2 separate regions of the Homo sapiens genome follow, and region 1 is linked to region 2. The links come from fine-mapping of genetic effects on gene expression. A gene starts in region 2. The other region holds a variant in brackets. All regions are shown on one strand. Distances are from middle to middle. Region 1 overlaps RNF175 (ring finger protein 175). Region 2 holds the start of TLR2 (toll like receptor 2).

Region 1 (16,779 bases), 26 kb after region 2:
CTTCACTAAGATTCAAAGAAAAGATTTTGCTGGACTTACCTTCCTTGAGGAACTTGAGATTGATGCTTCAGATCTACAGAGCTATGAGCCAAAAAGTTTGAAGTCAATTCAGAATGTAAGTCATCTGATCCTTCATATGAAGCAGCATATTTTACTGCTGGAGATTTTTGTAGATGTTACAAGTTCCGTGGAATGTTTGGAACTGCGAGATACTGATTTGGACACTTTCCATTTTTCAGAACTATCCACTGGTGAAACAAATTCATTGATTAAAAAGTTTACATTTAGAAATGTGAAAATCACCGATGAAAGTTTGTTTCAGGTTATGAAACTTTTGAATCAGATTTCTGGATTGTTAGAATTAGAGTTTGATGACTGTACCCTTAATGGAGTTGGTAATTTTAGAGCATCTGATAATGACAGAGTTATAGATCCAGGTAAAGTGGAAACGTTAACAATCCGGAGGCTGCATATTCCAAGGTTTTACTTATTTTATGATCTGAGCACTTTATATTCACTTACAGAAAGAGTTAAAAGAATCACAGTAGAAAACAGTAAAGTTTTTCTGGTTCCTTGTTTACTTTCACAACATTTAAAATCATTAGAATACTTGGATCTCAGTGAAAATTTGATGGTTGAAGAATACTTGAAAAATTCAGCCTGTGAGGATGCCTGGCCCTCTCTACAAACTTTAATTTTAAGGCAAAATCATTTGGCATCATTGGAAAAAACCGGAGAGACTTTGCTCACTCTGAAAAACTTGACTAACATTGATATCAGTAAGAATAGTTTTCATTCTATGCCTGAAACTTGTCAGTGGCCAGAAAAGATGAAATATTTGAACTTATCCAGCACACGAATACACAGTGTAACAGGCTGCATTCCCAAGACACTGGAAATTTTAGATGTTAGCAACAACAATCTCAATTTATTTTCTTTGAATTTGCCGCAACTCAAAGAACTTTATATTTCCAGAAATAAGTTGATGACTCTACCAGATGCCTCCCTCTTACCCATGTTACTAGTATTGAAAATCAGTAGGAATGCAATAACTACGTTTTCTAAGGAGCAACTTGACTCATTTCACACACTGAAGACTTTGGAAGCTGGTGGCAATAACTTCATTTGCTCCTGTGAATTCCTCTCCTTCACTCAGGAGCAGCAAGCACTGGCCAAAGTCTTGATTGATTGGCCAGCAAATTACCTGTGTGACTCTCCATCCCATGTGCGTGGCCAGCAGGTTCAGGATGTCCGCCTCTCGGTGTCGGAATGTCACAGGACAGCACTGGTGTCTGGCATGTGCTGTGCTCTGTTCCTGCTGATCCTGCTCACGGGGGTCCTGTGCCACCGTTTCCATGGCCTGTGGTATATGAAAATGATGTGGGCCTGGCTCCAGGCCAAAAGGAAGCCCAGGAAAGCTCCCAGCAGGAACATCTGCTATGATGCATTTGTTTCTTACAGTGAGCGGGATGCCTACTGGGTGGAGAACCTTATGGTCCAGGAGCTGGAGAACTTCAATCCCCCCTTCAAGTTGTGTCTTCATAAGCGGGACTTCATTCCTGGCAAGTGGATCATTGACAATATCATTGACTCCATTGAAAAGAGCCACAAAACTGTCTTTGTGCTTTCTGAAAACTTTGTGAAGAGTGAGTGGTGCAAGTATGAACTGGACTTCTCCCATTTCCGTCTTTTTGATGAGAACAATGATGCTGCCATTCTCATTCTTCTGGAGCCCATTGAGAAAAAAGCCATTCCCCAGCGCTTCTGCAAGCTGCGGAAGATAATGAACACCAAGACCTACCTGGAGTGGCCCATGGACGAGGCTCAGCGGGAAGGATTTTGGGTAAATCTGAGAGCTGCGATAAAGTCCTAGGTTCCCATATTTAAGACCAGTCTTTGTCTAGTTGGGATCTTTATGTCACTAGTTATAGTTAAGTTCATTCAGACATAATTATATAAAAACTACGTGGATGTACCGTCATTTGAGGACTTGCTTACTAAAACTACAAAACTTCAAATTTTGTCTGGGGTGCTGTTTTATAAACATATGCCAGATTTAAAAATTGGTTTTTGGTTTTTCTTTTTTCTATGAGATAACCATGATCATAAGTCTATTACTGATATCTGAATATAGTCCCTTGGTATCCAAGGGAATTGGTTGCAGGATCCTCGTGGATATCAAAATTCATAGATGATCAAGTCCCTTATAAGAGTGGCATAGTATTTGCATATAACCTGTGTACATTCTCCTGTATACTTTAAATCATCTCTAGATTACTTATGATACCCAATACAATGTAAATACTATGTAAATAGTTGTACTGTCTTTTTATTTATATTATTATTGTTATTTTTTATTTTCAAAATTTTTAAAACATACTTTTGATCCACAGTTGGTTGACTTCATGGATGCAGAACCCATGGATATAGAGGGCCAACTGTAATCTGTAGCAACTGGCTTAGTTCATTAGGAAACAGCACAAATGAACTTAAGATTCTCAATGACTGTGTCATTCTTTCTTCCTGCTAAGAGACTCCTCTGTGGCCACAAAAGGCATTCTCTGTCCTACCTAGCTGTCACTTCTCTGTGCAGCTGATCTCAAGAGCAACAAGGCAAAGTATTTGGGGCACTCCCCAAAACTTGTTGCTATTCCTAGAAAAAAGTGCTGTGTATTTCCTATTAAACTTTACAGGATGAGAAATACTAGAGGGTGTATTTTCATGTGATCTGGATCTGTCTTTCTGGCTATTAGATAGGTTTCTCCAGCCATAGTTACTTGAGAGAGTGAGTACACAGTGCAAGGTACAGTAAATTATGTATTTCTGTAATTTAACAAAATAAATACTCAGTTTAGGAGAATTTGAAAGACACTTCCCACATCCGGACTCTGGTCTTCCTCAGCCTCTAACTACCTTTTGAGTTCTAGTTATTGTCCAATCACTCTGACTCTCAGTTCCTGTTTTTTAGCCTATATCTCCTGCATCTTGTTGCTTTTTCCTTCTTCGAAAAGTCTTGTTTTTAATTCTAAAAAAGCCTGCCCTTTTTCCCCTTCTGAATATTTTAAAAAGTACATGTGAGCTAAATAGATTTTTAAGCAAATATATACCTAGAGTTTCCTCATAATGACTCAAAAATAGTTTGATACACAGTAATTTAAAGGTAGATACTACTACCATATGTTAATTTTGCAATCTAGGTATAATAATACCACACATTAAATTTTGATGCAACTTTCTTTGGTAAGCACTATTTGCTGATTCTATGTAACTTTCTTAAGCTGGGAACCATGTGAAAGGAAGTGAGCCTTTGACCCCTGCTCAATTCTCAACCAGAACTGGGTGTATGTGGTTAATTGGGCACTAGAGTCAGAAAGACCTGGGTTAGTAGATGTGTAATCTTTGGCAAGTCAGTTGACATGACCCAAAAAGTTTTTCTGTCTTTAAAATAGGGATGATGATCTCTATATCCTAAGATACTGAGAGTATGAAATGTAGGAATGTAAGTAAACCATGAGCCTAAGCTCCTTGATTCCCATTTTCTCTGGAGGGGTGTTGAGGGCAAGAGTACCACGCCTAAGAGAATGGGCACTATGGGTTCGTGTGTGGGGTGAGGGTGATGTCTGTAGTAGATGTTAGCTATTATTATTATTTTCCAAGAAGATATTTCATTCCCTTATATATTATGGCTTGTAAGTGGATATTTTTCTGTTATGGATACTAGCAGGGATATAAGGGATCCTGCTGTTTGCAGAAAAATACCACAAAGAAATATATGCTCATTAACTGCAGAACAAGCTTGTCCTTGGGGAACTCGCATAGGGCTGCTGCTGTTTCACACGACCTCCCAGAAGAGTGTTATGGAGGAAACGGTAGCCAGCCTTAAAAAAAATCAGGCTTGGTGTAATCCCAGCACTTTGGGAGGCTAAGGCAGGAGGATTGCTTGAGTCCAGGAGTTGGAGACCAGCCTGGGAAACATGGCAAAACCCTGTCTCTACCAAAAAATACAAAATATTAGCAGGGCATGGTGGCATGTGCCTCTGGTCCTAGCTACTCGGGATGCTGAGGTGGGAGGATCACCTGAGCCCGGGAGGTCCAGGCTGCAGTGAGCTGTGATTGCACCACTGCACTCCAGCCTGGGTGACAGAGGAAGACACTGTCTCAAAAAAACAAAATGAAACAAAACAAACGAAAAACAAGTTTAGAGGAAGGAAACTTGAGATTCCACAGACACCAAATACAGTAATGGACTTTCTGCTTTACTTCTCTGTTTCCATGTTAATTATGAGAACAAGGTAGATTTAACATTGACTCGATCTATGTTTAATTTCAAGAACTTAAAATAGCAACTGAAATAGCTTCATAGATAATTGATAGATTTAAAATAATATTTAAAAAATAATCTTTAGGACGGACGTGGTGGCTTATGCCTGTAATCCCAGCACTTTGGGAGGCTGAGGTGGGAGGATCACCTGAGGTGTTGTGGTGCCTATTCACATTAAAGGTGGATCTTCCTTTCCTAGTCCACTGACTCAAATGTTAATCTCCTCTGGCAACACCCTCACATACACACCAGAAACTATACTTTACCAGCTATCCAGGCATCTTTCAATCCAATCAAGTTGACACCTAGTATTAGCCATAATACTCTCCAATCTTTTTTCAGTGTACATATACACACTACTTTACAAAATTGGGATTAGATTGTAAATACTTAAATTTTATAAAGAAAATGGCATCTTCATTTTTTTCTGAGGCTGTTTAGTGATTATCTGACATTCCTGAACTCTGAGGGTCATTGTGAATCCCATTCAGATAAATACTGGCTTATTTGCCGAGAGTTCTAAATGGTTCTGAAAGCTGCCATTGTGGCTATACATAAAAGATAAGTGGGAACTAAATTAGAGATCAGTTTAAGGGTTCTTTTTTTTGTTTAACAGGAGAAAAACTAATTTTTTGTTAGTGCTTTATCCAAATGTGAAGTCTTTTATTTGTCAATAGACTATAAGCTCAAGAATCTTGTTTTATCTCCCTACCCCTTGAACATGCCTACTATATAGTAAGTATTGAATTATTGGGATGTTTTCAGAGTAGAGAAATAAGCAATTAAAAATTCTATAATCTGGATGCTGAATCAATCATAATGAGAGAGGAGAAAATGAAAAATCAGTTCGGTAGACAGCTAAGGCTAGTCTTCAGAGAAGCAGTCTGCCTGGAAAATCACAGCTACAGGCAAAAATAGAGCAGCCTGGGGAAAACTCAGACTGTACCTGCACAGATAAGCAGGCAAGGTCCAGCACAGAAGCCTTTTGTTCTTTGTGTGATTAGCAGGCTCCCAGGAAAATGTTTTCTCCCCTTTTCAGATATGAACACGGGGGGATCCATGGGAGATTGCACTGGAAACAGAGGGGGTTTACCTAAAAGAAACCCACAATTACTCAAACAAGAAAAAACTATGCTTTGTGCTTACCTAGAGACATCTCACAGCTGTATAGGTAGGTGGAGTTGTGCAGACAGGTTTTCAAATAAGAGAAGTTACTCAAACAGCTACAGAGATGAGAGGAGTTTCTTATAAAAGCTTTTGCATTCAGCTGTAAAATGGCACCCCACTTGGGCTCTCCTCTCCACTGTGGAGAGCTTTCTTCTTTCACTTACTAAACTTTTGCTCCAACCTCACCCTTTGCATTCATGCTCCTTAATTTTCTCAGTCATGACACAATAAGTTCAAATAACACCTTAGACAATGAGACAATGGACCCTGACCTATTTCAATAATACTGAAGCATTGGGCAGTTTGAAAGAGGAAAGTTCTCAACAGTAAGAAATTGTAGTGTGAGTTATCTTAATGATGGACCTTTGAATAGCATTAAGTATAGTGCCAATATCTGAACAAGGAAAATAATCATTGTATTTCCTTTCTACTTCATACAATTGTAATGGCTTCAAGTATTGCAGAGTAGATGTCTGGTGTTAAATGTATACAGTGTTGACTATTTTAAAAATGACCAGTAATTCAAAACAAATTAATTTTGAGAGTCCAACATATCATTCATGGGTTAATTCTTTCTGACTGGTCTTCTCTATTCAGTTAATTTTGTTCCCTTCTGCCAGATTAATTTACTCTTTCAGCAAATATTTTTTGAGTGCCTCTTATGTGCTAGGCAGTGCTCAAAGTGCAGGGGATATGGTAGGGAACAAAACATAAAATTCCTTGTCTTCATGGAGGAGAAGACAATAAATTTATGATAGGATTTCGGGTATTGAGAAGTACTATGAAGAAAATAAAAGCAGAGTGCCACAATGGAATGACTGTGCACGTGTATGTGTGCACGCGCACGCAGAGTGGAACAAAAGAAAAGTGATTCTTCTTGCTTTAGTACAGCTGTTGCATGGGTTTGAGCACTTTTGGCAGCTCCAGGAAACCCAAAGTACCTGTGGCCCATTGAGAAGGTGTGGCACCTGCTGCCAGAGGCTTTGGGAGTAACCCACTTTCTACAGAAGAGCTCTGTGGTGCAGAAGCTGCCACATGGTAACAAGCACATGGAGCAGAAGACAAGCACAATGTCCTTGACCATAGATTACTTAACGACTCCACCTACTTTAAAGATGTTGAACTGATGAGAAAGTATTAGCTATGGCTAAATGTTGTGTGTGAGAAGTACTTTGCAAACCTCTGAAACACTTTACAGATATTGTTATCAGTCAAACTGGAAGTAGAATGTCCACAGTGCAGTGTAACAAATGTGACATGTGCATGAGTTAAGAAACAGCTGTAATGGGAAAGATGAAAAAACATGCTTTATTTGTTTATTCCATTGTTCAGCTTCTCTTTAAATTCTTTCCACATGGACAAATTGCTTGACAACAAAGTTTACTTAGTTTTCTAAACACTTGGGATCATCTCTAAAATTAAAAAAATTAATATTAAATGTTGGACCAAGGATTTCAACCATGCAGTATGTTGCTTCTGGGGTCTGCTGTCCTATTCCAGCCCTAGTGAATAGATAATGCCTTGAACTATTCCTATCACCACAGGTTGCCAGGCCACCAAATAACGAAGCCAATCCAGGATTTGTCCATACAGAAAATGTGTGCGCTCCCAGCTAAATCTCAGTTAAGGAGGTTGTTCTATATACAGCCAAGTAGCAGAAATATTCATAAATGTCATTTGCAAATATAATAAACAATGTAATGAATGGGTATTTCCTTTCTTGTTAATTCTATGTGCTCAATTAAAAGCCCCTTATGTGAGTTTTATAGCATTATGGTTGTCATTGTTACTTACACCACACCCAATTCCTGAAAATAAATTGAAGTTCTTTACAATAAAATCCCAAACTAGAAAACAAGAATCAAAGGCAAGGGTATATGCTAAAAGAAGGAAGAAGAGGGGAATGACTATATTGGAAAACCAAGGATAGTGGAAACTGCTCTAAATGAGCAAAAACAGCTCTGGGCTTTCCTGTAGTCATACATTAGAATGAACCCATTGTATATTACAAAGAATAACACTGGTTCATCAGATAAGAGAGACCTTTTTCTGCTGTCTTTGATAAACTGTGCTAGGGAGCTTAATGAATGCATAGTGTCTCCGACAACAATTTTACAAACAAAATGACAGCTTTTTCACATGTAGTTTTTTCTTATATTGAGTCTCAATAAAAGAGTAGTATATGTTTTATTCAACAGTTTATTTTCTCAAGACTACATAAAGAAATGAATGACCCTTTGTTAAAGTATCACTTGAGGTGACATTTATGATCATATTATCACCAATTTTATAACAAAGATTTATGCATTGAGGTTTTATAGGTTAATAACCAAAAACTGTTCTGGACTTGGTATCCTCATTTTAGAAGAGGAATTCCAGGACAGTGGATGAACAGGAAGGTGGAAGGATCATCACACACTTTTAGCCTTGAGTTGGGCTTGAGTGGCACTGACTCACCGAGAAAGGCCAGGTCTGTGGATGGAGTGGGCACTGCAGAGGGTGGTCTCTTGCAATGGTATGGGCCTTGAGACCCAAAGATCCACTGATGTTGCCTCCTTCTCTGATGCCCTCCTTGAATCCCTCCCTGATCTGCAGTGCCCAGAGATGAGGGCATTGCTGCCAGTAGCCATTGTTAAACCATACGTATAGGGTTGGTGAGGAACAGGGGAGCAGGAAGCAAGGAAGGTGATTCCTTTAGCATTGTAAAATTTAGCTATTACTTAGAAAGTACAGAAAGGCTGTCTCTTAGAGAAGAGATGGTACTTGGCAGGTTGATGCCAACCTTTCAGGACTCTTCTGCTTAAGGGA[G/A]GATATGTTTTAATTCCATTCCCACCCTGCTTCCTGAATGAGATATACTATGGTCTTGAGATAGTGAGGTTGAAGACAAAGTCTTTCTAGTTAGCTCCTGATGGGGGCCATTACCTTCCTGCGACCTTAATGTGACTTGAATTTATTCTGTTGCACACCTCTGATGTCTATACAAATCTCAGTGGCTGCCAGAAGCTGATCAACTCTGTAAATCTTTATTTATTTTCAATATTGTTATCACTAGTGTTTGGCCTAAGAAGAGATGATGCATGGCATGGAATTTAAAAAGCCAAAATCCAGACGGGGAAATACCTACTCATTTCTGGGAATAATAAAATTTGGTACACCCTAACATATTTTAAAAATAGTTTTCTGTACTCTAGTTCACATTTCGGCTTTTAAAATTTCAATTCCAATTTTTCTATTTATGCACCTATCTACCCACCCATCCAGTTCACTCATTTATTCATCCATCCATCCATCCTGAATATTCTTCCATATATTTTACCTATTTTTTGCAGTGTCTCATCACATTTCCACTACAGCCCTTAATGTGGAAAATATAGAACATAAAGAGTGGAATGTTTTCTGGCATTTAACTTTCTAACCAGAATAGTAATATAGGCACAGAGGAGAAAAGAGACCATAAGTCATTTTGAAATAGGTGGTTAGGGAAAACAAAAAATTTTCTGCTGGAACTATACAAAAACACTGAAACTTTTCATTGAAGAATATATCCCCAGAAACATTCAAGATAATCTCTTATAACCTTTTTGTTTTAAAGGATATGGATTACTGATCATCCTCTTCAAATCAACTTTCTCTTTGCAGTAAGGGCAAGTCTGCTTTTTCCCAACGATACACCAACCTCGGATGCAGAATTCATGAAAGCTGAAGCATCTTGTTAGGGAGGCTTCTAGATATGAAAAGGCAATGTCTGGTTCATGATGGCATGGAATGGTCCCATCTTCAGGGTCTAGTGGTGGAGTCATGACTTGATGAGGCACATCGCTTTTTTCGGGAGGTTCTGTAAGGGACCTGACAATGACAGTGAGCCTGGAGTCACAGCTGCCTTCGCTTTATGACCCTGAGGAATTTACTTAGCTTCTTGGCCTTCTTGCCTCACTTGATTCTGGTAAGAATTAGATTAGATAAAGAATATGAGTCCTTTTTTTTTTTTTTCCTTTACAGTGATGTCTTCCATAAGTGTATTGTTATATTTCCCCACCTTGTTATTGTGCGTTTCTCAGGCATTTACCGTAGCATTTCTCTGTTCTACTTTTTGTGCATTATTCTTTAGCTTCATGTAATCAGACTTGTCTTAGGCACTTAGACAAGTTAAAATTATTTGTGGTCATAAAGTTACAAATATTTCCATTAACTTCATAATTTTTTTTCTTGACTTTTAAAAGTACTGATAAGGAGCCAATTATTTTTAATAGAATATATACCTACTAAACTTAACTTCTCAAACTCTAGGCATTTACAGATCCATTTGTATACGTCTCCTGGTCCAGAAAGTCTGACCCTTTGTCCCCAAACTTGAGTGAACCCTATGTGTTCTCACAGCACCAGGGACTTACTCTAGTGTAGCAGGACTTTTGGTACTTACATGTTTCTCCTAGACCATGTGTTACCTGTAGGACTATGTCTCATTCATTTCAGTGTCCTCAGCACCTTAAGCCATGCCTAAGAAATATTTATTGAATGAACATTTGAATGACTCTTTCAAAACTGATTATTTTTGGGAATATATATTTCCATGTTCCCTGATACTATGGATTTGGGCAAAATGAACTATAATGAAATCCATCCTACTGATTTGTTTATTTCTACAATCGCTGCTCCCAATGTGACTTTCTGGGCCAAGATCACATGATCTTCTGACTGGCCTGCTACACACCCAGGTGAACAGCAACGATGTAGAAGTTCCCTCCCTAACAAATGGAGGAGCTTGGAGGTGTAGCAAGTCAAGGCCATGTATATAACTCCTCAGTATTAAATTTCAATGTAACCAGGAGTTTCCATTATTTTATGTTCTTGGAATTGGGGTCATTTTTGCAATATGCTTTAAAATAAAGTGGTGTATTATAACGAAGATTTTGAACCAAAACTCAAACAGCCTTTCATTCAAAAGGGCTGGAATACAGCCCCATCTTCTACAGAGGTATAGAATTCAGGGGCCATTGAGTCAGCACAGAAATGTCCACATTCTCTCTAATGTTCTTTTTCATTTTCAAAATCTCAATGCTGAAAAACTTGCACACTGGCAGAACTTCTGCAGAGCAAGACTCAGATAACCCATCCTTGTTAATATGACTCATATTTGCCCATTTCTCACTAATATGACTCATGCTAAAATGGGCCATTAATAATACTCCCTGAAAAGCAAATTTAAAGGTGACTACATTTTAGATTATATATGCACACATGTACAACAATCCCTAAGGGCTTTTAAAGGTGGAGAGAGAAAACATTTCCATTTGCAAATGGCAGAAGGGGCTCTGTTCCAACATTTGAAAAATAAATCATATTTAAAACTAGGGCCAGACTTGGAAAATTGCTACAAAGAATGAGTTTTTTGGGAAAGGTATCACACTGAAAAAACCACTACAGAAATCCATATGGGGTATCTTTGTGTTTCTTCCCTTAAGATTTTAAGGCTTATGTATTGGAGTAAAGGCTCCTATTACTTTTGAGATGCATTTGGTCCTGGTTTTACTTTCAGGATTGAATAAGTGGAAACTGTCCAGATTAAACAGAATTGAATCATAGGTACTGGACACCGAGGTATGACTGACTAAATTAAGTGGGCTTTAGGCAAAAGACAGATGGTTTAACCATCTCATAATGCCAGAGCTTTGAACTAACTGGGTACATAGCGATGACATTATTAAATTGATACTGTACTATAAAATAAAGATAAATGATACCCTTTTTTGTATTTAGGAAGAATTAAAATACTGATGATTGGCCAACCTAAGCCTAACTTTGGTATCCATAGCAAAAGTAGTGTCCATACATGTTCAGGCAACACAGGTTGATTTGTTCAGGGGTCTCGATGCCAGCATTTTTCAGCACATTGAGGCTTTCCTTAATGGTTACTGGAGTTCACATAGAATGCTGGTTTCCAGGCTCAGGCTGTCTGGTACCTATCATATGAAGATCCCTCAGCCAATGGATAGCTATTTGGGATAGAACCCATTGGTGGAGGAGCCCATGGTCCAAGAACAAATGTCCAAATTTTGGTCCCTGCTTTTGTAATCCAAGGTGTCTTGCTGCCTGTGGCTGTATCTTCTTCTAAAGACTGAAGCTGAGAAGAAGGCTTGGTTTCCTCCCTTGGCTGCCCCCAAGACTACTGTTGCCACAGGTAGGTTCCTAGGATTATTTCTAGGCAAAGCACTCTTTGTATTTCTTGATCTGCTAAGATTCAGACCTTGGGCTCCACTTGGATAGTCTTAAGTTCCCCCCTGCACCTGATACTTCACTCTTTTTCTCACCTCCAAACCCCTTCTTTCCCTGATCTTTGTTGGCTATCTGCTCACTTATGACTTCAACCAATTTCCCCTGCCAGCACCCTGCTCAGATACTGCCTTCCTGTCTATGTGGCATTAACAGTCCTCTTTAGAAAGGAAATTACTGGAGGAGGAGGTTCACCTTAATTAGCAGTTCATTATTCAGCAGGGACAAACAGGAAGACTCGACTGGGCTGGAGGATAAAGGACTGGGGTTTGGGCATGGAAGGTAAGCAAGATGGAGGAGATGGGGACAGGAGGAGGAGGAGGAGAAGGAGGAAAGAAGGAGGCTTGATGAAGCCCAAACAATTTCCTTTGAAAAGGATACACATGATTACAGGAAAGCTGGTAGGTGTTTTCAATGAGCCCTTCTTCATCAAGCTCCACAATGATCTTCTGCCCACAGACTGCACAGATATTGTCCGATAAGCTCCTTGTAGGCAACCGGCTGACACTGTAGAACTATCAGAGGAAATGGACAGAGCACAGTCAGAAAGGAGAGCACATGCCACTCTCTGAATGCAGGAAGCCACTGCCAGGCACTGGGACAGGCAGCCCTTGGCACATAGAATCTCCACTGCGGCCGGGCATGGTGGCTCATGCCTGTAATCCCAGCACTTTGGGAGGCTGAGGCAGGTGGATCACAAGGTCAGGAGTTCGAGACCAGCGTGGCCAACGGGGTGAAACCCTGTCTCTACTAAAAATACAAAAAAATTAGCCAGGTGCGGTGGTGGGTGCCTGTAATCCCAGCTACTCGGGAGGCTGAGGCAGGAGAATCGGTTGAACCCGGGAGGTGGAGGTTGCAGTGAGCTGAGATTGCGCCACTGCACTCTAGCCTGGGTGACAGAGCAAGACTCTGTCTCAAAAAAAAAAAAAAAAAAAAAAAGAATCTCCACTGCTTCTAAGATAGTTTAGAATGTGAGACACCGTTTCCTGTAAGAAGAATGCTACAGAGGGGTTAAGGTTTCCAGGCAAAAACTCATTGAATTCCAAAGGGACCCAAAGCACATTGCCAATTATAACTTCTCATCTAACCTCCACATTGAGGAATCCTTTCACAGGAATCGTTTTTATCCAGGGCTGGAGTTAAGAGGAAGCTTCAGAGGAAGCCTTTGAGTTTAATCCATAGATTGGCCCTTCCCTTTATTGTCCTGGAGATTCTGATTCAGATCTCTGGAGTAAACCGAGGCATCTCTCCGTCATTTAAATCCCCATGTTTTTATTGGGTGCATGCTGAGCAATCACCATTAGAAGGCAATGCATTTAGAACTTTACTTTGGGATATCTGCATCTTCCCGTACTGTGGATAAGGAGTGGTTCTCAACATTGGCAGCATATTAGAATCCCTAGGAAGCTTTTTTTTTTCCAAAGAAAATTATTTTATAATAGTTTTAGATTTAAAGAAAAGATACAAAAATATTACAGAGATTGGCTATATACCACATATCTAGTTTCCCTATATTATTATTAGATTGATTTAAAGGAATTGGCCCACACATTTGTGGGCAAGTCAGAAATTTGCAGAGCAGGTTGGCAGGCCAGCAGGCTGGAAACTCTGGCAAGATTGATGTTGCAGTCTTGAGGTAGAACTCCTTTTTCTCTAGGAAGCCTCAGTTTTTGCTTTTAAGGCCTTCGACTGATTGGCTGAGGTCTATGTAGAATATTAAGGATAATCTCCTTCAGGTAAAGTCAATTGATTATAGATATTAATCATATCTGCAAAATACCTTTGCATCAACATGTAGACTAGTGATTTTGCCAAACAAGTGGGTATCATAGCCTAGGCAAACTGACTCTAAAATGTAATCATCACAACCTCGTTAAGGGAGGAGAATTTATATAAATTATGTGGAATTCTTTTGCACAGATTTGACTATTCTCTTCCACTTATTTATTTATTCAATCATTTATTTGATATCAATGTGGACTCATGGATATTTATGCTTTGGGTTATAACCCAATACTACTACTATTACTATTTTGTTGCTCAAATTCCAGCTTTGGCCATTGGGAGCTCTTTCAGTTGGCTCCTGTGTCTCTTTGACATATCCCCAATCACTGTGGAGTTCTTTTGTTTTGTTTTTAGCATTTTCTTGCTTTTGGTCACTACGAGATGCTCCAGGCTTATATTGTGTATTCTTTGCCCAGACCTATAATGAGCCATTTCTTCAAGGAGTGCCAGTTCCTTTTATTGTAGAATGATATTAGAAAACAAGATCTGGACACTATGTATGTTCATTGTTGCTGGGGTGTCATTGCCCCTAGGACCTCTTAGCTGACAGAACAAGGAATTCATCTGTATATACTAACACACACACACAGATACACACACAAACACACACACACACACACACATACATATCTGTAAATATTTCTATATCTATCCATGTATATCTATATTAAGCTAAACAATTACAATTACAGAATACATGTATGGTGGTATCAAAATTGTTAACCCATAGACTTGACAGCAATAACTTTATCAACTAGAGTACAGTGCTTATGACACAGTTTCTTTTGTTTTTAGTCTTATGATCTCCATTCATTTCAAAGTTACTTAGGTCAGCACCTTTTTTCCCACCCCTTTCAATGACATTATTTCATACATTTGTAATATGGTTAGATTCTTTTGGCATGATCTGAATTCTACCCTTGGATTCTCTGACTTCCTAAATTATTTTTAAAATTTGCATAAATTTAAGGTTCACACTTTCTATGGATTTTGAGAAATGTATAGTGTTATATATCCACCGTTATCGTATCACACAGAAGAGTTTCACCACTCTACATTTCCTGTGCTTCACCTATTCAACCACGCTCCTTCCCTAAAGCCTTGGCAACCATGGATCTGTTTAGCAACTCTATAGTTGCGCCTTTTCTAAAATGTCAGATAAATGCAGTCATACAGGATGGAGTCTTTTCAGACTGGCTTCTCACACTCAGCAACATGCATTTAAGATTCACCCCATGGTTTTGGATGGCTTAATAGCTCATTCCTTTCCTAAGGAGTTTTTTTTGTTTGTTTGTTTGTTTGTTTGTTTTTTTTTTTTTTGAAGCAGATGCACTGGATCTACTCCCAGAGATTCTGATTTACTTGCTTTGGTGTGGGGCTTAGGCACTGATACGGGAATGGAGACTGTATGTCCTTACCTCAGTCACAAGCACATGCACAAGTGTCTGTGGACACACACACACACACCCCTTATTAATCCAAATCACTGGTGGCTGTACCAATGGCTTGAGGCAGTGGTTTTTATAGATTTGGTCGCTGGAATAAACAGACAGGATGACAAAATGTTAAGAACTGGTCGGGTTGGATCAGGTGAGAAGTTTCCCAAAAGCTGGTGCTTAAAGACTTGGTTGTCTTGCCAGGTAAAGTCTCTTCTTCTTGGTCCACTTGAGAACAGCCACATATAATTCTAATCTTCCTTTTCTGTCCATAAACACAAGAGGTTTTGGGAATTTTCCAAGGGGTATAACTTCTGTTTTTTCTTGGAGAAACTGGGAATAAAAATACTCCTTCCTGTGCTCACATTAAACCTTATAAGAAAGGCAGTTGTATTGTACCAGCATTTCACCACAGAATTTGGGCTGCAGGCTTTAGGAAAAGAGTAAGATAGAGCCTATGGTGGAGGGGATGGACAATTGCTGTGGGGAGGAAGTCAAGGTCATAGCCACTTAGGTCCTGCTCCAGAAATGGAGGGAGCAGTCCAGAAGTTCACCCTTTTCTTGCTACTTACACTGTTTTTTTCTTTTTTTAAAAAAATTAAATTTAATTTAAAATTCCAGGATACACATGCAGGTTTGTTGCATAGGTAAACATGTACCATGGTGGTTTGCTGCACCTGTCAACCCATCAGCTAGGTACTAAGACCCACATGCATTAGCTATTTTTCCTGATGCTCTCCCTCCCGCTCCCGATAGGCCCCAGTGTGTGTTGTTCCCCTCTCTGTGTCCATGTGTTCTCATTGTTCAGCTCCCATGTACAAGTGAGAATAGGCAGTCTTCAGTTTTCTGTTCCTGTGTTAGTTTGCTGAGGATAATGGCTTCCAGCTCCATCCAAGTCCCTGCAAAGGACATTATCTCATTCTTTATTATGGCTGCATAGTATTCCATGGTGTATACGTACCACACTTTCTTTTTCCAGTCTATCATTGATGGGTTGTTTCCATGTCTTTGCTTTACACTGATTTTTCTACTTCACATCTGGCTGTGTACCAGGAGACACATGTAGAGGACAGAGATGTGGAATTCTTGAAACTACTAAGTCATCCCTAGAGCCTTTAGTTTGTAAGTTTTTAAGATATGCAAGAGTCAGACATAGATAAATGCCCCTGATATCTGAATCAGGAATACATCTAACTCCAAAGTATGTCCATTCTGAATTTTAGTCTTAAAAGAGTTCAAAAAAAGAAAAGAAAAACAACTGTTAGGGATTAAAAAAATTCTAGGTAACAGTATAGAGTCAGAATACATCTAGCATACTTTTTATATCTTCTACTTCTTCAGATGCTATATAATGTGACTGGTATTTATAATAAGTATTACCCAGATGCACTGTTGATTCTGAACTGTTTTATGCATCATCAACTATAGTTTTTATTTGCATTAGGCAGGGTTTCAGACAGAGCTGAAAGGTTTTAGTTATTGTTAATGTTTTACTAATCCTTAAATGTTGGCAATTGGAGTATGCTAGATACAATAACATAAATAATTTGCGTATTTTATTTTAAAAGATGCCTTATTGCACAAGTATTCTATATACATAAGACATGTATTTTCCAATTAATTAACAAAGAATTTTTTGATGAAAGGAGAATCCAGGGAGCAATTGGTCTAGGTGAACCAAAAGAGTTCCAAAGGAAACAATAATCAGTATATGGAGAAAGACTTATTTGTTTCTGAAAATGGATGCAGACATGTAAGATGAGACCATTTCTCTTTGTGTCATACATGGTTTCAGAAAAT
Region 2 (16,779 bases):
TCAGCCTCCCAAGTAGCTGGGAATACAGGCGGGTACTGCCACACCCAGCTAATTTTGTATTTTCAGTAGAGATGGGGTTTCACCATGTTGGCCAGGCTGGTTTCAAACTCCTGACCTCAGGTGGTCCACCTGCCTTGGCTTCCCAAAGTGTTGGGATTACAGGCGTGAACCAGGCTAAGATATTTTAGTACATTTTTCAAGGTGCTCCAAATAAGTTAGAACTTGATAAAATTCTACCTTCTTTTCATATTCTTCTCTGAAGTGGTCTGAAAGGCCATATAACCCTTATATATATTAAAATGATATCAGTCACTCATGGTTTTGCTTGACTATGTGGGTGAAAATAGTGCACTATATTTCTTCATTCCCATCTTTAAATGAAGTCAGCTCTTGTGTGGTGGAGGCAAGATGTCAGTCAAGACAAGGGGCCTGGTCTAGGCTTCTTTCCCCTGAAGTCTTGTCTCTGCAATGGCCACTTCAGATGTTTATACTCCATTCCTCCAGGTCTAGCCCATATTCTGAAAAGGCAAGGCAATCCACCACTCAACAAGTATTCATTGAGTGCCAGCCATGCTATTGGGGATGAGAATAGTTCAGTGCATAAAAGAAAACAAAATCCCTGCCCCATGGGATTTACATCCAGTCATACTTAGCAGATGTGTGTGAATCTGGAAGCACCTTTTCTATAGCCTGACAGAATTCTTACAACAGGTGAAAACTACTTGCCTTGTCTTCGGGAGCCTTGTGCATTTGGATCTATCCTTTAACAACTAACCTTGTCTATCATCCTCACAGTCTGACTCTTTACTTCTGGGATAGTCCAACAGAGACTTGAGGAAATGTTTCCTTCTCTCTTTTTCCATTTTCCCAAATTTAAATTCATGAAATATATATAAGTTCTCTAAATTAAAAACAACAGGATATTTTACCAACTTTCTGTTCTGAACTAATTTAAAATTTATGTTTCCAATCCCCAGAGATATGAACTAAAAAGCCTGAAATAAATGTAGATCAGTCACTTGAGCTGACATATGAAGCAGTCAACTTTACTCTGAGACGTTTTGTTTGATCTTTCAAGTTTCTAAAAGTATTTGGAAGCGGGAAACACTGTTCTTCATATGAGATAAAAGGAAGAAAAAAGGACCTTATAGTCAGGCTCATTGTGAAAAAACTAATATTAAGATAAGCTGAAGCAATCAAATGAGAGCATTTGCAAATCACTTGTTGGAGGTAAAGCTGGAAGCCTATGTAGTTCAGGAAAATGGAAGATGAGATGGCTGAGATCCCACGAAAAGACCACGTCCAATAGAAACTGTAATAAAACAGAGCTCAGCTACAGGAATTTTCAATGATGACAAAATTTTAAAGACATGCTTCTACTTTTGTATTGACTAAAGATCTTCAGGTTGAAAGTGTCAAGATCTGCTTAATAGCATATCCTCTGTTGCAACATTCAAAATCATCAGGATTCTTAGATCTCAGTGAAAAATTGATGTTTGAAGAATAATTGAAGTATTCAGTCCATAAGGAAGCCTGAAGCTCCCTATACACCTTGAATTTCATGCTAAATAATCTGCAAGTTCTGGAAAATGCTGCTTAACTCTAGAAAAACTGACTAACCTTGATCTTGGTCAGCATATACTTGGTTCTTTACATATCACTTATCAATGGTCAGAAAGGGAAGAATACTTGAACTTATCTAACACAAAAATTCACAATTTAACCAATTGTTTCCCAGACACGAGGCTTACTAGAAGTGAGCCTTGTAAACTTTTATTTAGCTGCAATTTAAATAACTTTACATTTTCAGATATGTGTTGAAGACCCTACCAGATGCTTTCTTCCCCTTTGAGAAGAAGCAGGAAAAGAAAACTTTCTCTAAAGGGCAACTTGACTCTTTTCACACACTGAAGACTTTGGAAGCTGGTGGCAACAACTTCATTTGCTCCTGTGAATTCCTCTCCTTCACTCAGGAGCAGCAAGCACTGGCCAAAGTTCTTATCGGTTGGCCAGCAAACTACCTGTGTGACTCTCCATCCCACGTGTGTGGCCAACAGGTTCAGGACGTCTGCCTTTTGGTGTCGGAGTGCCACAGGGTGGCACTGGTGTCTGGCATGTGCTGTGCCCTGTTCCTGCTGATCCTGCCCATGGGGGTTCTGTGCCACTGTTTCCACAGCCCGTGGTACATGAAAATGATGTGGGCCTGGCTCTAGGCCAAAAGGAAGCACAGGAAAGCTTGCAGCAGGGACATCTGCTATGACGCATTTGTTTCTTATAGTGAGCAGGATGCCTACTGGGTGGAGAACCTTATGGTCCAGGAGCTGGAGAACTTCAATCCCCTCTTCAAGTTGTGTCTTCATAAGTGGGACTTCATTCCTGGCAAGTGGATCATTGACAATATCATTGACTCCATTGAAAAGAGACACAAAACTGTCTTTGTGCTTTCTGAAAACTTTGTGAAGAGTGAGTGGTGCAAGAAGGAACTGGACTTCTCCCATTTCCGTCTTTTTGATGAGAACAGTGATGCTGCCATTCTCATTCTTCTGGAGCCCATTAAGAAGCCATTTGCCTTAGTCAATCTGGGCTGCTATAGCAAAAATGCCAATAGACTGGGTAGTTTATAGATAAGAGAAATTCATTTCTCACAGATCTAGAGGCTGGGAAGTCCAAGATCAAGGTGTTGGCAGATTTGGTATCTGGTGAGGAACTCTTCCAGGCTCAAAGATAGCTGTCTTCTCACTGTGTTCTTGGTGGTGGAAGGGGTGAGGGAACTCTCTGAAGTTTCTTTTGGAAGGGAACTAATCCCATTCATGAAGCTTCTGCCCCCATGACCTAATCACTCATCAAAGGGCCCACCTCCAGTACCTCACATTGGGGGTTAGGATTTCAACAGATGAATTTCAGGAGGACACAGGCCTTCAGTCTATGGCTAGGATCATTCCCCAGCATTTCTGTTAAGCTGCAGAAGATAATTAACACCTAGACCTGCCTGGAGTGGCCACTAATGAAGCTCAGCGGGAAGGGTTTTAGTTAAAGAAAACTCCTAGTTTTTAGTTCGACCATTGTGGAAGACAGTGGTGATTCCTCAAGGATCTAGAACTAGAAATACCATTTGACCCAGCCATCCCATTACTGGGTATATACCCAAAGGATTATAAATCATGCTACTATAAAGACACATGCACACGTATGTTTATTGCGGTACTATTCACAATAACAAAGACTTGGAACCAACCCAAACGTCCATCAATGATAGACTGGATTAAGAAAATGTGGCACATATACACCATGGAATACTATGCAGCCATAAAAAAGGATGAGTTCATGTCCTTTGTAGGGACATGGATGAAGCTGGAAACCATCATTATGAGCAAACTATCACAAGGACAAAAAACCAAACACTGCATGTTCTCACTCATAGGTGGGAATTGAACAATTCCCACCTGGACACAGGGTGGGGAACATCACACACCAGGGCCTAACGTGGGGTGGGGGGCTGGGGGAGGGGTAGCATTAGGAGAAATACCTAATGTGAATGACGAGTTAATGGGTGCAGCACACCAACATGGCACATGTATACATATGTAACTAACCTGCACGTTGTGCACATGTACCCTAGAACTTAAAGTATAATAATAATAAATAAAACATATCAAAAAAAAGAAAAATGAGCTTGGGAGTCATCATGCCTCCTGCTCCCTTCCCCTGCCCCCAGCCCCCAGCCCCACTTCTGGCTGGGACCTTTGAAGAGTGCAGTTCCCTCTTCCCCATAATTCATTCTGTCCATCTACTCATTCCAACACACTTTTTGATCTGATTTCTATGGCTCAGCTCCAAGGTGCTTGCCTCAGTCCCCTGGCCCGCAGGAGCCCACAAAAAAAAAAAAAAAAAAAAACTCCTAGTTTTTAAAAGGGAAATATATACAACATGAAATATTCTGTTTTCAGAACTTGGTTCTATGTTAACTTAGAAGTTTACTACTATTATTTTGCATAGGCAATATTTTTGAAATGTCTTAAAAAATTACGGACATACGGACATCTGTGCAGAGTAAAAAAATTTTGAAGAATGTATGTTCATGTATAAAGATCTGTAAAATAATGCAGGATTTATGGCATATTTTCATTAAGTGGTTTTCGGTGGATGAGTTTCTTATTATTTCATCTGACAATTACAATATACTTTATGTGAAAAAGACATAGACTGTGTGTTTTGTTTTGTTTTTTCGAAACAGAGTCTCACTCTTATCTCCCAGCCTCAACACACTGGACTCAAACGATCCTCCAACCTCAGCCTCCTGAGTAGCTGGGGTTACAGCTACAAACCATCATGCCTGGCTAATTTTTGAATTTTTGTAGAGATGGGGGTCTCCCTGTTTTGCCCAGGCTGGTCTCAAACTCCTGGACTCAAGATCCTCCTGTCTTGGGCTCCCAAAGTGCCGGGATTACAGGTGTGAACCACCACGCTGGCCTTGTGTTTTCGGATAACTTTCAGATAACAGCTTAGGATTTCAGTTAGATGCTCAAAACTATGAATATATACAATGAAAGTTACCCTTTCCCCAAATATTAGTACATTTCATATGCCGTGTTGATTTTCTAACTTTAATCAACATTTTTCTTTTTTTTGGTAGAGAGTTATAGGAGGTCTTATATCTAGATACAGAAGGAGACTTGGAGTCTAACCTGGGATTTGCCACATGTTAACTGTGAGCCATGCGACTCTGGGCAAGTTCCCTAATCACTTTAACCAAAGGAATAGTAATATCAGAATTATTTATTGCATGTGTTATTGTAAGATTCAGATGAAATTCTAGATGTGAAGGTGCTTCAAAAATGTCAAGAACTAGGCCGGGTGCTGTGGCTCACACCTGTAATCCCAGCACTTTGGGAGGCCTAGGCTGGTGGATCACTTGGTGCCAGGAGTTCAAGACCAGCCTGGTCAACATAGCAAAACCCTGTCTCTACCAAAAATACAAAAATTAGCCAGGCGTGGTGGCACGCACCTGTAATCCCACCTACTTGGGAGGCTGAGGCAGAGAATTGCTTGAATCTGGGAGGTGGAGACTGCAGTGAGATGAGATTGCACCACTGCACTCCAGCCTGGGTGACAAAACGAGACTCCATCTCAGAAAAAAAAAAAAAAAAAAAGAAAATGTCAAGAACTGAACAAGTATAAGGACTGTGTCTGAATTGGACGTGCTAATAGCTTTGTGGACAGTGTACAACTACCTTCAATATATGCAGAGGACACTGATTTGTGGCTAAATAAATGATTTCTATCTGACTTTGCCAGACAATTCTAATTGACTTTGGGATTATAGAGCAATAGCATCAAAATCCACCTTAGGCAGTTCAACTAGGGAAGAGAAATAGAGAAAAAACAAGTTTTTAGTTTCAGGAGAAATAATTTGAAGGAAGTTTTCTTTTGTCAGAAATCACAAGGTAGAGAGCTGGAGATTTGGAATTAATAAGAAAGCATTTTCAGCCAGCTGGACAACCTGATGGTCAGGATAAAGAAAAATAGTAAGATAGTGACCTGTATACAAAAACCTCTCAATTTCATATTTAGGTCTATTGATTAAGTTTCCCTGATGTTCCAACCATCAGAGAGGATTAGGGATGTGGAACAGGGTAGGAGAAACAGCCCTGGATTTAAGGTAAAATTCTGGTTTCAAATCTCAGTTCTGTCATATGTTATACAATTCACATGACATTTTCTTGTGTAAGGGAGGAACAAGGATGCTTGCTCTGCTTCATATCTCACTTTGTGAAAATCAAATGTAATTATGAACATAAAAGGTAGATTATTAACATTAAGGCAGTTGAATTTTAAAAGCTTGTTTTCTTCCCTTATACATATTCCTAACCGTGGAGACAGCTAGGTTCTGTGGCAATGAAGAAAATTGATCAATGACTGTTTTTGGTATTACTTTGGGAAGTAGGGATGGAATAGGGGCAAGGGAAGGGCTTAGCTTCAAACTGTAGACAGAAGTGGGAAGCCCAAATCTTTGCATGGTGAGAAGTGGGATGGAATGTAGGTGCTAGAGATGGTGCACCAGTAGGGACTGTCACTGGATTGGGGAAAAAAATCCGGGGCTGTCCTTATCTGCTCCCTTAGGCAAAATCGTTCTGTGTTAGTCTGGAGGGTGAACCTATTTTAATGCAGGAGGGCATAGACTTTTGGGTGGAAGCGGACCCTGGAGATGTACTGGCAGGTGAATAGAGTGTGGAAAAGTGGGGAAAGGAGAAGCACGATTCATGAGCCTGAGTTCGGGCTTCCATGGATGGAAAAGCATCAGGAGTGGAATTTAAAGACGGTGTGTTTCAGGTGATGTGAGGTCCTGGATGCCCGAAGCTTCAAGAAAATACTGGTTGGGCACTTAGCTTTCCCTGTGGTTGCCAATCCCACGCAGGCCGCCTCTAGCGTCTCGATTCGCTTTTCTCTGACCTGGAACCTCCGCCAAGCCCCCAGCTCTCTTCTTCGACCCAGCCTTGCACGGGGCAGCTGTCGGGGCAGGACCCGCCTCTGGCCTGTCGCAGCCTAGCTCACGGTCAAGGGCGGGAGCCTGCTGGGAAGCACGGCCGCGGGGGCTCGCTCGGGGCCACCTGCCTGGAACTCAGCGCGAGGTCCAGAGTTCCCTCCGGCTGCGCAGCGGCGCACGTGCCCCGTGGAAGGGGCGGTTCCCGCACCCCAGAAGGAGGGGGCGCCCGGCCGCGCGGACTTTCCCTTTTGCTTACTTCCTAGTCCCGGGCAGGCCGGCTCGGAGGCAGCGAGAAAGCGCAGCCAGGCGGCTGCTCGGCGTTCTCTCAGGTGACTGCTCGGAGTTCTCCCAGGTACGTCGTGCGCTCCCCACTCGTGTGGTCTCTCTGCACCCCTTCCTGGGGTCGGGTCGGGCAGGGGCGGAGGGGAGCCGCAGCCCGGTCACGGGCTCTGGGGAACCCGGGCTCCCGTTCGGCTGCACCTGGGCCCCTAGCTCCTGTCCGGGCGGGGATAGCGGGAAGCGCACCAGGCCCCCGGGACGCCGGTGCTTCTTTGCACGGCCCAGCGCGGGAATGTGGACACCAGCGAAGCCGGCTCAGGTCGGCCCTCGGGAGAAGCAGGGGCTACACGGAAAGGGAGCCCGAGGGTCCTGCAGAGCCCGAGGTCGGGACCCCGCGCGTGCAGTGCCAATGGGCTGCGGCTGGGCTGAGCGCCCTTCCAACCTTGCAGGCCCCGGGGGGGTTGCCGCGGAGAGCTTCCGCTGGGGCTCCGGGCCTCTGGCCGCCACCTCCCTCGGGAGGCCGAGGGGGGCGGTGGCCCCGGCCCGGCCCTCCCGCTTCCCTCACGGCCTGGCCCTCCCGCTTCCCTGATTCCCGGTAGGGTCGCTCTCCCCGCCTCCTGGCCCCTCTTGGCTCGGATGACAAAGATTGGGTAAAGGCTTTCAACGAGCTAGCGTCTGGCAGGGGGTGTGTCCTCGCTCACTGGTTACTGCTAGGACGGAGCTTGGATTTTGGTCACCGTGGCTCAGAGGTGGGAAAGGTTCCGTGCTCTGGGTCTGTCCAGGACCCTGGCTCCCTAACCCAAGTCTGACCTCTGCTCCCTGGCAGGCTTCGCCCCACCTCTGCGTTCCTTCATTCTTAGGATGTGTGAGTTAGGTCTCTGATTAGAAAACAACTTACAGCGTTTAAGCAAAGTCGAGTCCTTCAAGTAAGAATGCTTTGAAGTGCCCTTTACAACTTCTTCAACTTCTATAAATATGAACTTGTGTTTAGAACTTAAATGCAAGCCAGGAAAGTCTTTTTCCTGTTTGAAAGAGAGAGAAAGAGAGAGAAAGAGGTGATTGGAAGTGGTGGGTGGGGGCGGAGAAAGAGAAGGAGAGTAATCTGGGTGTAGACAACTCAAAGTTTGCTGAGATGACTTTAATCTTTTGACTCTGTTATTAAGATTTTTACCAAAGAGCAACTGTAGCTATGGTGGCCTGACTTGAAGGGACAGACCAAACAAACAACAAAACACAAAACAAAACAAACAAACAACAAAAGCAAGAGCAGAAACTATTGGAAAATGATTTATTCACCAATATTTTAAAGGTTCTTCCTGTTCTAAGCAAGGAACATCTTTAAGTTCTTTATAATGTACCCATTTTACATTTACAAAAACTGCCAGAAGTTGACAGCATGTTTTGGGGGTTTCTAAGCTATCAGTTAATTTTTTGGGGTACAGTTTTATTGATAAACTAACAGAGTAGAAAAAATCTAATGGAATACCCCCAAATTTAAAAGAGGGCAAGAAAAGAGAGACAATAGAACATAAAACAAATGGGACAAGAATAAAGTACATAGTTGTCACAGTCCCTTGGGTGCTGCTGTAACAAAATACCTGAGACTGGGTAATTTACAAAGAACAGAAATTTATCCATTCATGGTTCTGGAGTCTGGGAAGTCCAAGATTGAAGGGCTGCATCTGGTGAGGGTCATCTGGCTACATTATAACATGATGGAAAGCATCACATGGTGAGAGAGAGCAAGAGAGGACAGAACTTACTTTTATAACAAACTCATTCTCACAATAAACTGCTCCCTTGGTGATAACATTAATCCATTTATGAGGGTACAGCCTTCATAACCTAATCACCTCTTAAAAGGTTCCACCTCTCAGCTCGCAGTGAGCCGAGATCATGCCACTGCACTCCAGCCTGGGTGACAGAGCGAGACTCTGTCTCAAAACAAACAAACAAACAAAAATTCCACCTCTCAACACTGTTGCATTGAAGATGAAATTTCCAATACATGAGCTTTGGGGCACACATTCAAACCATAGCAATAGTTCAATTACTTTAAAGCCCAAAATGTCAGTAATTATATTAAATGCAATTTAATACATCAGTAACTAAATGAGATAGACTAAATTTTATGATAATCAGACTAATATTATCAGACTAGACTTCAAAACAACCCAACAATCATATGCTGTTTACAAGAGACACATTTATGGATACTAAAAGGTATAAAGTGAACAGATGCAACCATTTATCAAAAGAAAGCTGTTGTGGCAATATTACTATTAGACAAAATAGAATTAGGAAAAAAATCATAACTGTAGATAAACGTTTCACTAAGTTAAAGGTTTCACTGAGAAGAAATAAAAATTTTGAATTTATAAGTACTTATAACAACATTAAGAAACTAGAAAATAGAAAAAGAATAGAGCCAAATTGACTGAACTAGAAAAATAGAAAATTCATAGAAAAATCCACAATCATAGTGGGAGATTTTATCATACATCTCTCAGTAACTGATAGAAAAACCAGACAAAAATCAATAAGGATAAAGAAAATGCGAACACAATGTAGTTCACATAAGGAACCTATACTACTTCCAACAGCAGCTGAAATCACAGAGCATACTTAAAATCTGACCATATACTGGCTCATAGAGTAAATTGCAATACATTTTAAAGAATTTAAATCATACAGAATATGTCTTCTGACCATAATGCAATTAAAGTAGAAAAGAACAGAAAAACTTATAGAAAATTCTCATATATTTGGAAATTAGTAAATTTCTAAATAACCCATGGGTCAAAAAATAATCAGAATGAAAATCAGAAAATATTTTTAATGACTTATGAAAAAAATTACATATAAAAACTTGTCAGATGCACCTAAACTGTTGCTTAAAGGAAACTTACAACCTTAAGTGCATATATTAGAAATGAAGAGTGACGAAAAATGAATGAGCAAGCAAATACCTTAAAAACTGGAAAAGGAATAGTAAAATAAATCCAGAGAAATCAGAACAGGGGAAATAATAATATAAGAATAGAAATTAATGTGCTAGAAAATAGGGGATCTATCAAGTCAGAAGTTGATTTTTTGAAAATGCTAATAAAAATGATGAACCTCTGGCAAGACAATAAAAGCTGGTACAAATAACTCATCTAAGGAATAAAATTGAGGACCTCTCTTTTGTTAAATGACATAAGCAGGAGGCCATTATCCTGAGACTGTCTCTACACTTTGAGTTCTTACATAATAAACTGCAACCTAATTTAGTATACTACATAAACAAACTGAAACCTAACTTAGGAGCTTTTTTTTTGTAATTAATAGCTAAATTTCCACCAAATCATAAATAGCCAAGCTTTAGCCAATCACAGGCAGCCAACTGATCAGACTATGCCCAAACAAGGTAAATGCCTATTACACCATACCCAAATAAGGCAGACTCCTAGCTGAAGCCAATCAGGTGATTACTATGCTCTTGTGTTTGGCCTATAAAAGCTCACTGCTCACACTGTTGGATGCTCTCTGAAACTTTTGTGAATCTGAGTGCTGCCTGATTCATGAATCATTCTTTGCTAAAATAAACTCTGTCAAATTTAATTTGTCTGAAGTTTCTCTTTTAACAGTGTTTGGTGTTGCAAGCAGGATCCAAAGGAGACCTATAGTGACTCCCAGGAGCTCTTAGTGACCAAGTGAAGGTACCTGTGGGGCTCATTGTGCCCATTGCTCTTTCACTGCTTTCAACTGGTAGTTGTGGGTAAGTTCCTGCTCAGACTTGAGCACTATACATTTGCATTTTCAGCTCTCTGACTTTATTTGAGCAATTCTTTGATGGATTGGCTCCAGAATTGGATTGGATTCAGTGAAGAAACTGAAACTGGACTGGTGCTCTAGGAGGCCTCAAGTAGATAAGGTTACTAGAAGACAGGGAATCCTGGGCTTATCTGGATTTAAGGAGTCTACAACTCCATCTGCAACTCCAGCCGATTTCATTTATAAGAATTATGGACCAAGAACCTGTGCTTTTCTAGAGAAATGTGTGAGCCTTACTAAAGGTAACTTAGAATTACAATGGACTGCTGAGACCAGCTCGGTCGTGGAGACCCTAACCCAGCAGCGCTAGAGGAATCAAAGACACACACACAGAAATGTAGAGTGTGGAGTGGGAAATCAGGGGACTCACAGCCTTCAGAGCTGAGAGCCCCTAACAGAGATTTACCCACATATTTACTGACAGCAAGCCAGTGATAAGCATTATCGCTATAGATTATAGATTAACTAAAAGTATTCCTTACAGGAAACAAAGGGATGGGCCGAAACAAAGGGATAGGCTCTGGCTAGATGTCTGCAGCAGGAACACGTCCTTAAGGCACAGATTGCTCATGCTATTGTTGTGGCTTAGGAACACGTTAAGCGGTTTTCTGCCCTGGGTGGGCCAGGTGTTCCTTGCCCTCATTCCAGTAAACCCACAACCTTCAGCGTGGGCGTCATGGCTGTCACAAACATGTCACAGTGCTGCAGAGATTTTGTTTATGGCCAAATCTGGGGCTAGTTTATGGCCAGGTTTGGGAGCCTGTTCCCACATGTCCCCCTTTTTTGTTTTGCAAAGCAATAAAAGCAAAGGCAGCTTTGTCACAGTGAGCTACTTCTTGCAGGAGTCGGGATTCGCATATGCATACTATACAAAGACAAACAACACAGATTAAAAGCACAACCATCATTGAAATCACAGAGCTTCCAAGTGTCTTTATCTATTTTAATGGGTTAATCACTGCTAATCTGTCTGCAGCTCCTTCAAGCACTCCAGTTCCTGGCATTAAGGTCTGGTGTGCCTGGAATGCTTTAAATATTTGTTCTTTTAATATTGCAATATGGAAAGACAAGTTTGTAGAGTGTCTTCTAGGTGCTTTTTTATTCTTTCCTGAATTTGGTCTTATTTAAGAGCCATTAATAGTTTCCACAAATCCTTATGTTTAGCTCCTACAGCGGGCCATATCATTTGAGGGTGAGGTGCCACTATACCATCATGTTTCCAGATAATAGGAACTCTTGCCATATTTCTTGCTATTTCTACCATCTGACCATTTTGTTTAGACCAGCTAAACATAGTGTGGCCATGGCACGCAGACTGAGAGGTGCAATTTAAGCTAAACATCCCCTTAGGGGACCAATCAATAATGATTCCATAGGAATCACTGCGCAGCACCTCTGCCTATTCTGCAATGCAATCTTCCCAAACAAGTATGTTCATTATTTCTGGCCAGGTCCAATTCTGTTTACAAATAGGTTTTTGAGGGCAATATGCCTCAATTATAGAAACAGATTTATTATGGTAAATACTGAGATCAGAAAGCATGTGTAACTGTGTCATAGAATGATTACATCCAGGCATTATTGCCAGCCAAGATTGATAAATATGCCCAATAAGTATAATTGTTCTCTGTGTTAGCCCTTGTTGAAGGAATACTAATGGCAATGGTGATCACTGCTATCATAGCTATCATTAAATTACTCATTGTGACTGGTTGTCCCACTTTCCTCAGGTTTTCTTCCACCCTCTATGGCAGTTTCTTGATCTGTCCCCAGGTAGATGGCTGTGTTTGATGGTTGTTGCTCGTGATAGTTTGGGTCCTCCTCAGCATCAGTCTCGACATGGCTGCAACCAGAGGGTCCTCGGGATCCTCCCAGAATCTCTTCCTTGGCATCTGGCTCATGATAAGGTTTCAGGTGTCTTGATGGTATCCAAATCAGCTATTGATTCTGGCCTGGAGAAACACAAGCATAACCTCTACCCCAAGTTATTATTTTACCTATTTCCCAACTTTTTGTTGTCAGATCTCTGCACCAAGCCAGTTGTTCTGCTTCTGTTTTTGCAGCTGGTTTCTGTAGATGCTCTTCAGCTGCTGATAGCATCTGGCCTTTAGGCAGGCTCAAAAAATTTAAAGTCATTAATGCTAGATTCAGTTGTATATGGGGTGTCCTGTAATCCCTGTTTCCCCTTTTTGCTTTTGCAACTGCTGTTTCAGGGAGAGATTCATTCTTTCTACAATGGTTTGTCCTTGAGAATTATATGGGATGCCAGTAATGTGTTTAATATTCCATATAGAGAAAAATGTAGCTAGAGCTTGGCTAGTATAGCCTGGGGCATTATCTGTTTTAACAGAAGTTGGAATTCCTATCACCACAAAACACTGCAAAAGGTGATGCTTAACACATGCAGTCTCCTGATTGGCATGTAGCCCAGACAAAGTGAGAAAAGGTGTCCACACATACATGTACATAAGCTAGTCTCCCAAACGAGGGAACGTGTGACATCCATTTGCTAAAGATAATTAGGTTCCAATCCTCGAGGATTAACTCCTCCTGTTAAAGATGAGGAATGCACCATTTGGCAAGTTGGGCATCACTGGATAATAGCTTTAGCTTCTTTCCAGGTACTGTTATATCTGCATTTGAGACCAGAGGCATTAACATGGGTTAAATTGTGAAAGTGTCTAGCATTAGATATTGCAGTAGCAACTAGGCGATCAGCCATTTGATTCCCTTCAGTTAAAGGTCCTGGAAGAGGTGTATGAGCCCTAATGTGAGTGATGTAAAAAGGGTGCATTCTACTCCTAAATGCTGTTTGCAATTGGGTAAATAAAGTCATCAGTTGTTCATCTGTATGAAGTCATAACTGAGCATTTTCAATTAATTGTATGGAATGAACCACATAGGAAGAATCAGAAATCACATTAATAGGCATATCAAAAGCAGTCAATACCTCAATTACAGCTAAAGCTCCACTTTTTGAGCTGAAGTATAGGGCGTGTGAAAAACTTTACCTTTTGATCCAGAATAAGAGGCTTTACCATTACAAGACCCATCTGTAAAAACATTCTCAGCACCTTCAGTTGGTTTAAATTTAGTTATTTTGGGGAGAATCCAATTAGTTAATTTCAAAAATTGAAATAATTTCATTTTAGGAAAATGATTATCAAGAATACCCACAAAGTCAGCTAAATGGGTTTGCCAAGTAAGACTATTTATAGAAGCTTGCTGTATTTGTGCCTTTGTGAGAGGGACAATAATTTTTCCAGGATCATATCCATGTAATTTAACAATCCGAATTCTCCCATTTCTTATCATCGTAGCCATTTGATCCAAATAAGGAGTTAGAGTCTGTGAATTAGTATGTGGAAGAAAAAGCCACTGTACAAAGTCTTGCTCTTATACAATAACACCAGTAAGTGAATGCTGAGTTGGAAAAATTAGCAAATCTAGGGTCTTTTTTGGATCTATTCTATTTATTTGAGATTTATGGATTTGCTTTTTGATTAGCTGCAGCTCTGCCTCAGCTTCTTTTGTTAATTGCTGAGGGCTAATGAGACTAGGATCTCCTCTAAGGATAGAAAATAGATTACTCAGGGCATAGGTGGGAATGCCTAGAGCAGGTCATATCCGATTAATGTCCCCTAGTAATTTTTGAAAGTCATTTAATGTTTTCAATTGATCCCTACGTATAGTTACTTTCTGTGGCACAATGGTAGTGTCATTTACTAAGGTCCCCAAGTAGGAGTAAGGAGTAGTAGTCTGAATTTTGTCAGGAGCTATATAATTAAACTGGCATGAGAAATCGAGTTTTGCAAGTGATCATAACATTGGAGTAATATTTCTTGAGTGGGGGCAGCACAAAGTATATTATCCATATAATGAATAATGTAACACTGTGAAAATTTTTTACGAGTAGGTTCAATTGCTTGCCCTTCATAAGTCTGGCAAATTTTTGAACTGTTTCACATGCCTTGTAGCAACACTTTCCAATACAAATGCTTTAGTATGCTGCAGGTTTTTTACTGCAGGAATTGTAAATGCAAACAGTTCACAGCCTTGCTCAGCTAAGGGGATAGTAAAGAAACAGTCTTTTAAATTTATGACTATTAAAGGCCAATTTTTTGGAATCATAGCAGAAGAAGGCAGTCCCGGCTGCAATGTCCCCATAGGTTGTATAACTGAATTAATGGCTCTTAAGTCAGTTAACATTCTGCATTTACCTGATTTTTTCTTAATTACAAAAACTGGAGAATTCCAAGGGGAAAATGTTGAGCTATGTGTCCTTTTTCTAATTGTTCAGCAACTAAGTCCTCTAAAGCCTCCAGTTTCTCTTTACTCAGCAGCCATTGTGCTATCCAAATTGGCTTATCTGTTAACCATTTTAAAGGTATATAGGTTCTGGAGGCTTAACAATGGCCACCATCAAAAATGATATCCTAAACCTTGGTGGGAACTTTGTCTTTCCGCTTGAAGCATTTCCTTCAAAGCTTGCAAATTTTTTCCTAGTCCCATACCAGGGACATACCCCATTTCATGCATCATATGTTGACTTTGAGGGCTGTATAATTATTCTGGAATTAGAACTTGTGATCCCCATTGTTGTAATAAATCTCTTCCCTATAAATTTATAGGTACAGAAGTTATAATTTTTTGTATAGTCCCAGGTTGTCCATTGGGCCCTTCACAATGCAAAATATAACTACTTTGATATACTTTAAGGGCTTTACCAACTCCAACTATGTTAAATTGAGCAGGTTGAATTGACCATGCAGATGGCCAGTGCTGTACAGAAATGATTGAAATGTCCGCTCCTGTATCTACCAAACTTTTAAATTTCTTTCCCTGAATAGTTATTTCACCAGTAGGATGTTTATCAGTAATTTGATTCACCCAATAAGCTGCTTTGCCTTGTTTATTTGTGCTTCCAAATCTTCCTGTTCATTTAATTTCACTTTTCCCCATTTCCACATATGGCATAATCAGGAGCTGTGCTATATGCTCTCCTGGCTCTGCTTTCCAGGGAACAGAAGTAGATATAACAATTTGAATTTCCCCTTTGTAATCTGAATCAATGACTCCTGTTTGTACTTGCACGCCTTTTAAATTTAAACTAGACCTACCTAGAAGTAATCCTACCATCCCCGCTGGCATCATCTGACTGGAGACAGCAACCTTCTTTAACAGTCCCATTACAAAAGGAGAACCTGTTCCATATGGATTAATAGCTTGTTTAAATTCTTTGAGTAATTTAAAAGGAAAAGGCTCAAATGTAGCTATAATATTTCCCTGTTGATCTACGGGGTATATTCTAACAGGGAACTGCTAAGCCTCTATATCACCCTCTCTTCTAACTTGCTGAATTCCTGGCTGAATAGAACTGAGAGTGGTCGCTCGAGGTGCTGCTCAGTCACTGGGGCGACTACTTTTTGCCCAGTGTCCTCTGGAAAAGAAAGATCTGGAGGATCAGGCTACTCTTTTGCTTCGAAATAATGAGGGGGTGCAGAAGGGTAGGGACAAACCTCTCCCTCCTTTGCCACTTTAGCTTTAGCTGGCAAACAAACCTGCTCTGTCACCTCTTCTGTTACTTCATTATACTTTCCTTCCTCCTCATCTTTAGTGTGAAAAGGTTCCAAGGTGGAATGAGCTAGAGCCCACACTTGCCCATTGTTACCCTGATGCTTCCGAGCTCCCCTTCTTACTCACCATGGGGATTGCTTAAGAGTACTCGGGTATCCTCCAGCTTTGTTCCACGTTTTCCAACCATTGCTCCAGCGAGCCTTCATCCTGGGTTTGAGTCCCCACGTTGGGCGCCACTTGCCGAGACCAGCTCGGTCGTGGAGACCCTAACCCAGCAGTGCTAGAGGAATTAAAGACACACACACAGAAACATAGAGTGTGGAGTGGGAAATCAGGGGATTCACAGCCTTCAGAGCTGAGAGCCCTGAACAGAGATTTACCCACGTATTTATTGACAGCAAGCCGGTGATAAGCATTATTTCTGTAGATTATAGATTAACTAAAAGTATTCCTTACAGGAAACAAAGGGATGGGCCAAAACAAAGCGATGGGCTCTGGCTAGATATCTGCAGCAGGAACACGTCCTTAAGGCACAGATCGCTCATGCTATTGTTTGTGGCTTAGGAATGCCTTAAGTGGTTTTCCATCTTGGGTGGACCAGGTGTTCCTTGCCCTCATTCCAG

What was found. PIP is the estimated chance that this variant, and not a neighbour inherited with it, causes the effect. A credible set is the group of variants that fine-mapping cannot tell apart.
Region 1: its variant is the best candidate, but not a certain one, in a credible set for the expression of TLR2 in whole blood (INTERVAL, PIP 0.73).

What each region holds. Positions count from the first base shown.
Region 1 is chr4:153,703,390-153,720,168 of GRCh38, forward strand. It overlaps RNF175 (ring finger protein 175), which reads right to left. Exons shown (of 9, transcript NM_173662.4): 7 at 12,140-12,273; 8 at 9,086-9,187; 9 at 6,771-7,100. The coding sequence ends at 6,980. TLR2 (toll like receptor 2) reads left to right here. Exons shown (of 3, transcript NM_001318789.2): 3 at 1-2,871. The coding sequence ends at 1,873. Among named protein-coding and RNA genes, the nearest start is that of TLR2, 27 kb to the left of the region's middle. RefSeq lists an enhancer at 16,497-16,666. The variant G/A (reference allele first, on the strand shown) is at 8,297.
Region 2 is chr4:153,677,525-153,694,303 of GRCh38, forward strand. TLR2 (toll like receptor 2) reads left to right here and starts at 6,756. Exons shown (of 3, transcript NM_001318789.2): 1 at 6,756-6,836; 2 at 10,378-10,523. It also overlaps the pseudogene LOC100419170. RefSeq lists silencers at 6,474-6,653, 6,934-7,023.